Linked DNA regions of Homo sapiens: region 2 is linked to region 1. Evidence: fine-mapped expression QTL. A gene starts in region 1. The other region holds a variant in brackets. All regions are shown on one strand. Distances are from middle to middle. Region 1 holds the start of FAM30A (family with sequence similarity 30 member A). Region 2 overlaps FAM30A (family with sequence similarity 30 member A).

Region 1 (5,207 bases):
AGGGCCCAGCTCATCCCCCTCCTCCTCCCTCTGCTCTCCTCTCGTCGCCTCTACGGGAAATCCGGGACTCAGCAGTAACCCTCAGGAAGCAGGGCCCAGGCGCCGTTTAATAGGAGGCTTCCTCACAATGAAACTTTTAGAAAGCCTTGACTACAATGATGACCTTGGTGTGGCTGTGAACACTGTCAGCTCCCACAGCTGCTGCAGCAAAAAATGTCCATAGACAGGGTGGGGGCCCGGGGTCGTCTGCTGTCCTGCTCAGCCCACAGCACGCATGGAGGATCTGAGGTGCCACACCTGACGCCCAGGCCAGAACATGCCTCCCTCCAGGGTGACCTGCCATGTCCTGCATTGCTGGAGGGACAGGGGCAGCCTATGAGGATCTGGGGCCAGGAGATGAATCCTATTAACCCAGAGGAAAACTAACAGGACCCAAGCACCCTCCCCGTTGAAGCTGACCTGCCCAGAGGGGCCTGGGCCCACCCCACACACCGGGGCGGAATGTGTACAGGCCCCGGTCTCTGTGGGTGTTCCGCTAACTGGGGCTCCCAGTGCTCACCCCACAACTAAAGCGAGCCCCAGCCTCCAGAGCCCCCGAAGGAGATGCCGCCCACAAGCCCAGCCCCCATCCAGGAGGCCCCAGAGCTCAGGGCGCCGGGGCAGATTCTGAACAGCCCCGAGTCACGGTGGGTACAACTGGAACGACCACCGTGAGAAAAACTGTGTCCAAAACTCTCTCCTGGCCCCTGCTGGAGGCCGCGCCAGAGAGGGGAGCAGCCGCCCCGAACCTAGGTCCTGCTCAGCTCACACGACCCCCAGCAGCCAGAGCACAGTGGAGTCCCCACTGAACCCCACTGAATGGTGAGGACGGGGACCAGGGCTCCAGGGGGTCATGGAAGGGGCTGGACCCCATCCTACTGCTATGGTCCCAGTGCTCCTGGCCAGAACTGACCCTACCACCGACAAGAGTCCCTCAGGGAAACGGGGGTCACTGGCACCTCCCAGCATCAACCCCAGGCAGCACAGGCATAAACCCCACATCCAGAGCCGACTCCAGGAGCAGAGACACCCCAGTACCCTGGGGGACACCGACCCTGATGACTCCCCACTGGAATCCACCCCAGAGTCCACCAGGACCAAAGACCCCGCCCCGGTCTCTGTCCCTCACTCAGGACCTGCTGCGGGGCGGGCCATGAGACCAGACTCGGGCTTAGGGAACACCACTGTGGCCCCAACCTCGACCAGGCCACAGGCCCTTCCTTCCTGCCCTGCGGCAGCACAGACTTTGGGGTCTGTGCAGAGAGGAATCACAGAGGCCCCAGGCTGAGGTGGTGGGGGTGGAAGACCCCCAGGAGGTGGCCCACTTCCCTTCCTCCCAGCTGGAACCCACCATGACCTTCTTAAGATAGGGGTGTCATCCGAGGCAGGTCCTCCATGGAGCTCCCTTCAGGCTCCTCCCTGGTCCTCACTAGGCCTCAGTCCCGGCTGTGGGAATGCAGCCACCACAGGCACACCAGGCAGCCCAGACCCAGCCAGCCTGCAGTGCCCAAGCCCACATTCTGGAGCAGAGCAGGCTGTGTCTGGGAGAGTCTGGGCTCCCCACCGCCCCCCGCACACCCCACCCACCCCTGTCCAGGCCCTATGCAGGAGGGTCAGAGCCCCCCATGGGGTATGGACTTAGGGTCTCACTCACGCGGCTCCCCTCCTGGGTGAAGGGGTCTCATGCCCAGATCCCCACAGCAGAGCTGGTCAAAGGTGGAGGCAGTGGCCCCAGGGCCACCCTGACCTGGACCCTCAGGCTCCTCTAGCCCTGGCTGCCCTGCTGTCCCTGGGAGGCCTGGACTCCACCAGACCACAGGTCCAGGGCACCGCCCATAGGTGCTGCCCACACTCAGTTCACAGGAAGAAGATAAGCTCCAGACCCCCAAGACTGGGACCTGCCTTCCTGCCACCGCTTGTAGCTCCAGACCTCCGTGCCTCCCCCGACCACTTACACACGGGCCAGGGAGCTGTTCCACAAAGATCAACCCCAAACCGGGACCGCCTGGCACTCGGGCCGCTGCCACTTCCCTCTCCATTTGCTCCCAGCACCTCTGTGCTCCCTCCCTCCTCCCTCCTTCAGGGGAACAGCCTGTGCAGCCCCTCCCTGCACCCCACACCCTGGGGAGGCCCAACCCTGCCTCCAGCCCTTTCTCCCCCGCTGCTCTTCCTGCCCATCCAGACAACCCTGGGGTCCCATCCCTGCAGCCTACACCCTGGTCTCCACCCAGACCCCTGTCTCTCCCTCCAGACACCCCTCCCAGGCCAACCCTGCACATGCAGGCCCTCCCCTTTTCTGCTGCCAGAGCCTCAGTTTCTACCCTCTGTGCCTACCCCCTGCCTCCTCCTGCCCACAACTCGAGCTCTTCCTCTCCTGGGGCCCCTGAGCCATGGCACTGACCGTGCACTCCCACCCCCACACTGCCCATGCCCTCACCTTCCTCCTGGACACTCTGACCCTGCTCCCCTCTTGGACCCAGCCCTGGTATTTCCAGGACAAAGGCTCACCCAAGTCTTCCCCATGCAGGCCCTTGCCCTCACTGCCCGGTTACACGGCAGCCTCCTGTGCACAGAAGCAGGGAGCTCAGCCCTTCCACAGGCAGAAGGCACTGAAAGAAATCGGCCTCCAGCACCCTGATGCACGTCCGCCTGTGTCTCTCACTGCCCGCACCTGCAGGGAGGCTCGGCACTCCCTGTAAAGACGAGGGATCCAGGCAGCAACATCATGGGAGAATGCAGGGCTCCCAGACAGCCCAGCCCTCTCGCAGGCCTCTCCTGGGAAGAGACCTGCAGCCACCACTGAACAGCCACGGAGCCCGCTGGATAGTAACTGAGTCAGTGACCGACCTGGAGGGCAGGGGAGCAGTGAACCGGAGCCCAGACCATAGGGACAGAGACCAGCCGCTGACATCCCGAGCCCCTCACTGGCGGCCCCAGAACACCGCGTGGAAACAGAACAGACCCACATTCCCACCTGGAACAGGGCAGACACTGCTGAGCCCCCAGCACCAGCCCTGAGAAACACCAGGCAACGGCATCAGAGGGGGCTCCTGAGAAAGAAAGGAGGGGAGGTCTCCTTCACCAGCAAGTACTTCCCTTGACCAAAAACAGGGTCCACGCAACTCCCCCAGGACAAAGGAGGAGCCCCCTGTACAGCACTGGGCTCAGAGTCCTCTCCAACACACCCTGAGTTTCAGACAAAAACCCCCTGGAAATCATAGTATCAGCAGGAGAACTAGCCAGAGACAGCAAGAGGGGACTCAGTGACTCCCGCGGGGACAGGAGGATTTTGTGGGGGCTCGTGTCACTGTGAGGATATTGTAGTAGTACCAGCTGCTATGCCCACAGTGACACAGCCCCATTCCCAAAGCCCTGCTGTAAACGCTTCCACTTCTGGAGCTGAGGGGCTGGGGGGAGCGTCTGGGAAGTAGGGCCTAGGGGTGGCCATCAATGCCCAAAACGCACCAGACTCCCCCCCAGACATCACCCCACTGGCCAGTGAGCAGAGTAAACAGAAAATGAGAAGCAGCTGGGAAGCTTGCACAGGCCCCAAGGAAAGAGCTTTGGCGGGTGTGCAAGAGGGGATGCGGGCAGAGCCTGAGCAGGGCCTTTTGCTGTTTCTGCTTTCCTGTGCAGATAGTTCCATAAACTGGTGTTCAAGATCGATGGCTGGGAGTGAGCCCAGGAGGACAGTGTGGGAAGGGCACAGGGAAGGAGAAGCAGCCGCTATCCTACACTGTCATCTTTCAAGAGTTTGCCCTGTGCCCACAATGCTGCATCATGGGATGCTTAACAGCTGATGTAGACACAGCTAAAGAGAGAATCAGTGAAATGGATTTGCAGCACAGATCTGAATAAATTCTCCAGAATGTGGAGCCACACAGAAGCAAGCACAAGGAAAGTGCCTGATGCAAGGGCAAAGTACAGTGTGTACCTTCAGGCTGGGCACAGACACTCTGAAAAGCCTTGGCAGGAACTCCCTGCAACAAAGCAGAGCCCTGCAGGCAATGCCAGCTCCAGAGCCCTCCCTGAGAGCCTCATGGGCAAAGATGTGCAGAACATATGTTTGTCATAGCCCCAAACTGAGAATGAAGCAAACAGCCATCTGAAGGAAAACAGGCAAATAAACGATGGCAGGTTCATGAAATGCAAACCCAGACAGCCAGAAGGACAACAGTGAGGGTTACAGGTGACTCTGTGGTTGAGTTCATGACAATGCTGAGTAATTGGAGTAACAAAGGAAAGTCCAAAAAATACTTTCAATGTGATTTCTTCTAAATAAAATTTACAGCCGGCAAAATGAACTATCTTCTTAAGGGATAAACTTTCCACTAGGAAAACTATAAGGAAAATCAAGAAAAGGATGATCACATAAACACAGTGGTCGTTACTTCTACTGGGGAAGGAAGAGGGTATGAACTGAGACACACAGGGTTGGCAAGTCTCCTAACAAGAAGAGAACAAATACATTACAGTACCTTGAAAACAGCAGTTAAAATTCTAAATTGCAAGAAGAGGAAAATGCACACAGCTGTGTTTAGAAAATTCTCAGTCCAGCACTGTTCATAATAGCAAAGACATTAACCCAGGTTGGATAAATAAACGATGACACAGGCAATTGCACAATGATACAGACATACATTCAGTATATGAGACATTGATGATGTATCCCCAAAGAAATGACTTTAAAGAGAAAAGGCCTGATATGTGGTGGCACTCACCTCCCTGGGCATCCCCGGACAGGCTGCAGGCACACTGTGTGGCAGGGCAGGCTGGTACCTGCTGGCAGCTCCTGGGGCCTGATGTGGAGCAGGCACAGAGCCGTATCCCCCCGAGGACATATACCCCCAAGGACGGCACAGTTGGTACATTCCGGAGACAAGCAACTCAGCCACACTCCCAGGCCAGAGCCCGAGAGGGACGCCCATGCACAGGGAGGCAGAGCCCAGCTCCTCCACAGCCAGCAGCACCTGTGCAGGGGCCGCCATCTGGCAGGCACAGAGCATGGGCTGGGAGGAGGGGCAGGGACACCAGGCAGGGTTGGCACCAACTGAAAATTACAGAAGTCTCATACATCTACCTCAGCCTTGCCTGACCTGGGCCTCACCTGACCTGGACCTCACCTGGCCTGGACCTCACCTGGCCTAGACCTCACCTCTGGGCTTCAC
Region 2 (5,207 bases), 9.4 kb before region 1:
CAGCCCTGACCCAGCAGCGCCAGCACCAGCACACCCAGTGGGGAAGGCGGGGAGGCCCAAACGCCACCCACAGTTTGTTACTCCACTGGGTGGGACCCGGCACCCCTGCCTTCCTGACACCCTGGAGTCCCTGCCTCTTCCTAGAGCCCCCAAGCCCATCTGCCTCAGAGCATCCAGAGACAGACCTGGGGAGCCATTTCCTCAGGCCCTGGACAAGGAAACAGGGAATTCCAGGTTATGGGTGCCTGGGGCAGGTCTCAGGCAGGTGCTGGGAACCAGAGAGAGGGGTCACCGCGAGGCCTCAGGCCTGGCACCAGCACTTTGAGCCTCAGTTTACCAGCCCACGAGGTGCTGAGTCTGGACTGGATGACCTTCCCACCCCCAGTGACCTCTGCCCTTTCCCGAGCATGTCAGCTCTGCTCCAGCATCCTGGTGTGAGCGCAATGCCACTTTTTTTCTCAACAAATACGAAAGGAGGAAGGTGCCCCCAGGGCCCTGTGCCCTGAGGATGCCTGTGTGGAGGGGTCCATTTCATCACTGGTGTCACTCACAGGAAGGGACGAAGCCACCTGCCTTGACGGAGCTTACTCCACCTCCGCCGAAGGCCGGGGAGGTCCCTCACAGAGAACCTGAGGCCCAGCAGGCTGCAGAGGTGCTGGCATGGAATGACTGCTCAGACGCCCGGGGCCGGCAGAGAGGACGGATGTGGGGGAGGTGCACACTGAGGAGCCTCTCCTTGGAGGTGGAGACACGTGCACCACATGGACCAGGACACAGTCCACGAAGCCTCGCATCCCCCTGAGCTGCAGCTCAAGGGCCTCTCTCTGAGCCCAGAGTCCCACCCCTGGGAGGCAGCTGCCCCAGCTCTGAGGGAGGAGGGCATCCACCAGGCCCTCCATCTCCTGGGGGCACCAGCCCAGCCCAGAGGCTCTGCAGGACTCTGCACCTCCAATTCATGGCCAGGACTTTCTGGATGTATCTTAAGGACTGAGGACTCCACATCAGGGACCACACAAGACCGGGGTCCCGGACACGGGGGTTGGGGGTGAGCATGTCACCGGGATGGGCTGTGGCGTCACTCTGGTACTTCATCCGGACAGCCAGGGACCAAAGCCACGCCCTCAGCCCCACCCCACCCCTGCCTCACATGGCAACGCAGGGTCTGCAGATGCAGGAGAGTGAGAAGCATGGTAGCCAGGCAGACTAGAGGACCCGAGCTGGGGTTGAGCACCTCCCTGTCTACCCAGGGCATGGCCTGTGAGACTGCAGGTGGCCTAGTGTGTGCTGCAGGCTCAAGGTCCTGCCCCAGGGAGCATGACATTCAGGCCCAGAAATTGCATCGTGCTGCACACAGTCCAAGGGGATAACCCTGTGAAGTTCAGGTCACCAGCAGGCTTGGGGTCAAGACCGAGCTGCAGAGGACAGGTTTCTGGAAGGCACAGCATCATGGGTGGAGGGACTTGGAGCAAGGTCCTTAGCCCCGGGACCAGTGAATGTGTGCCCTTATAGGGAAAGGGGGTCTTTGCAGAAGCAAGTTAGCTGAAAATCATGAAGTGGAGAGGCTCCCCTGGATTAAAGGGGTGAGCCCTAATGTAATCACAAGTGTCCTTCTAGGAGGTTGGCAGAGGGAGACTGACATAGACAGAAGCCAGGTGAGGTGGGAAGCGGAGGCAGAGGCCGAGAGAGCAGACGCTACGCCCTGGCCCTGAAGACGGAGGAGGAGCCGAGAGCTCAGGGATGGAGAGACTGGAGGAGGCAGGGAAGTTCTCCCCGCAAGCCTGGAGGGAGCATGGCCTCCAGCACCCCCAGACCTTGGCCCTGCAGGATTCATCTGGACCTGTGGTATAAATGGTGTTTAAGCCACTGGGCTGTGCAAATTGTCATAGCAGCCATGGCGCATTCCTAGAGGGAGCCCTGGTGGGGACCCAGCAGGCAGCGACGGGGCCCTCACAAGCCTGTGAGCCACTCAGAGCCGCGAGAGTGGCTAGGCTTGGTGAGGTGCAGGCCACGCGCACCTCCACTAAGGCAGCCTTAGGGCCCACACTTCCTCTCTCTCTCTCTCTCTCTCTCTCTCTATCTCTCTCCCTCCCTCCTTCCCTCCCTCCCGCTCTCTTGGTTGGACAGCTCTCCATCATCCCCCTGGACACGACCACCTCCCAAGGCCGAGCTGGGGCGCTTTGCTCGAGGTGAGCACTGACATCCTGGGGGTGTGAGGGGCACCTGCCCAGCGGCCCCGTGTGCAGGATGGGCGGTGGGCCCTAGCTGGCACTGGGCATATGGCCCGGCTGGTGCCTGCAGGCTGCAGCTTTTCTGGGGTGGCTGGGATCAGTGAAGGCCTCCAGAGTCTGGGCCTGGGATCCCTGCAGTGCTGGCTGAGGACAGGCGGGGCTGGGCAGTGAGGGCACTGGGTCACTATCACCACCCACGGTTTATTACTTCACTAGGTGGGACCTGGCACCCCTGCCTTCCTGACACCCTGGAATCCCTGCCTCCTCCTACAGCCCCCAAGCCCATCTCCCTCAGAGCCTCCAGAGACAGACCTGGGGAGGCATTTCTTCTGCCCCCAGCAGAAGCCCGGGAGGCCGGGAAGGCACAGTGGGTCTAAAGGAGAGGATCCCAGGACTGCCTGAGGGGTGACTCCGACGAGGCAAGCATAGAGCCCACTGAGAAGCGGGGTGGGAGCCCCACCAGGGATGGGCTAGTTCCTCATGAAGGACCAGGACCCAGGAAGGACAAGGGGGCCTGCTGGGGCAGGGTCTGCTATGCCGGAGTCCCTGTGAGCCTGGCCCAGACCTGCCTCTCTCTTTCCTCATTGGTCCCCACAGGTCCGTGGTGGTTGCCGTATCGGGAGGCCCCATGGTGGCAGGG[G/T]TGGGACACCTGGTATACGTCGCCAGGTGTGTCCAATAGGCTCATGCTCACACCTTCTCCTGGCACCTGGGCAAAGCCTGAGCACCCAGGCACTGAAGTGAGGGCAAGGCCTCGGGGCCCCACAGGATGGCCGAGGAGACAGCTGCAGGGCGCCTGGGACCCCTGGGCTCAGGAGGTAGAAGGATACAGCCTGAAAACCCACACCACAAGCTCACCGGCCAGTGCAGGCCCACAGAGCTCGAGGAGGCAGCCCTGAGCCTCCCAGGGAGAGATGCTCTGTGCACGCCGGCACAGGCCCTGGGTTACAAACCCTAGGCACAGCCCAGGAGAGGCCCAGGCCCCAGTCCAGCAAGGGGTTGCAGGAAGCAAGAGGTCCCCGGCCACAGCATGAGATAAGCCCATCAAGCCAGGGCCAGGTGGGCAATGGGAGGCAGGCAGGGCTTGGGGGTGAGTCCCTGCTGCAGCGCCGTCCACTGTCGACCGGAGGAGTTTCTTCCCTGTGCGGAGTCCACGGGCCTCCTGTGAGTGTGTGCATGGGCACAAGTGTGTGTGTGGCTCTGCTGTGTGTCTGTACACACGTATGTTTTGGGTTTTTTTGTGTCTCAGACCACAGAGTCTGCCCCTCCCACCAAAGCCCAGGCAGAAGGATGAACCCACGCCCCTGGGGCCCAGGCCTCAGCAGCCTCTGCAGGATCATTGTTCCCAGTTGTCACTTGCCTTTGCCACAGCCCTATTTCTCCACAATTCCTTAAAGTCCTCAACATGCATTTAAGGCACAAAGGTGAAACTGCCCAGAAACATCTGACTCCGCCGTGGAACCCAGGAGCAAGCTGGGTTAGCTAAGGAGCGGGGCCGTTGGCAGAGGCTGGGGATCCAGGCTGAACTTTGGAGGAGGCATGTGCCAGCATGGGCTCCTGACTATGTCCTCCTGGGACAAACCCAAACCCACTCTTTGAATATGGGAGGGACTTTGCTGGCCCCGGCCCTGACCGCAGCACTTGGAAACTGAGGAGTGGTCGCCTCCTCCGTGTCACAGCTGCCCGTTCACCATCATAGAAGCAACTCTGTCACCTCCATGGGCCCCTCTGTGGCTGCTGCCTGGGTCCAAGCTGAGCCCAGCTGCCCAGGCCCAGAAGGAAAGCCCAGGCCAGGTGCCCAGCACAGAGGCAGTCACATACCCCGGGGAGAGCCACAGCAAGCAGCCAATGTTGCCCAGGAGAGGAGTAGCTGACAAGGTAGAACGTGAGCTGCCATCGGCTCGAGAGGCTTTGCTGGTCCTCCTGGGGCTCTGGACATGACCAGGAGGAGCGAGGGAAGAAGTCGCATGGTGGTCCCATCCTGGGTGGGGCCTGATGGCAGCTGGCCACCCGTCCCAGAGTGGCAGCCAGATGCCAGCGCCATTCCCACAGTCACATCATTGGTCACAGAATGCAGGACATAGAGTGTCTTCTTTCCATCACAGTGCTGTCCAGACCCATAGCCTAGGGTAGACCTGGAAGATTCAATGTCCACACCCGGGGCTGGAGCGTAGCCATGAGCCACGCCCCCTGCCCGTGCATGGAAAGCCAGCCCAAGCTCTGCTCCATCCCTAGCCAAAGTCAGTGTCCTTTCCCCTTCTCCCAAGTGAGCTCTAGCCACCTGCCTACCCTGCCATCTGAGGATGACAGCCTTCATTCCATTGGAACCTGGCTCTGCCACCAGCAGGCTTGCAGTCCTGGGCAGACTCCGTCACCTCTCTATGCCTCAGCCTTTCCATCTGCACAGGAGGAAGATGATGATGGTGGTGATGATGATGGCGATGGTTTCCTTTTGCATCTGAGGCAAGGACTAATTGAGATGATACACATCAGGCACTGGGTATGGTGCTGGTCCTTCCTGAGCACTCAATCTATGTGAGCTGTCCTTGTGAAATGGGTGTCACCACATTTCCCCACGCAGAACATCCTTTGTCTGCCATACTTGAAACGTCTGCCCCAATACTAACAGCTCCTCATGGAAGATGTGCACACCCACCCACCCTCATACTCCCAAAGGTGCCCGTGCTTTATCAAGCCAAAGTCCAGCCAGGAACTTTACAGCAGCATCCCTTTCCCTCTCCAAGCACCAAGGAGCAAGGCAAAGCACTACATCTTCCATCTGGAGGCAATGCCACCCTCTTCTCCCATTTTCACTGCCATCCCTAAGAGGCAGTGCTTCCCCAAAAGGTTCCATAGCAGCCTGCCTACAGCAACTCTGTTCACACGAGTTTCAGCATCCTTGCAGTGGCTCCCCTGCCATGCTGTGGCTCTTCATTCACCCTCTTCTCCTGCTCCCCGTGACAGGCATAGATTCTGAGTGAT

What was found.
Region 2: its variant is fine-mapped to the expression of FAM30A in whole blood (INTERVAL, PIP 0.95).

The regions. Positions count from the first base shown.
Region 1 is chr14:105,915,001-105,920,207 of GRCh38, reverse strand. It overlaps FAM30A (family with sequence similarity 30 member A), which reads right to left and starts at 2,229. Exons shown (of 6, transcript NR_026800.2): 1 at 1,391-2,229. It also overlaps IGH, IGHD2-2 and IGHD1-1.
Region 2 is chr14:105,924,377-105,929,583 of GRCh38, reverse strand. FAM30A (family with sequence similarity 30 member A) reads right to left here. Exons shown (of 6, transcript NR_026800.2): 6 at 1-5,207. It also overlaps IGH. Among named protein-coding and RNA genes, the nearest start is that of FAM30A, 9.0 kb to the right of the region's middle. The variant G/T (reference allele first, on the strand shown) is at 2,869.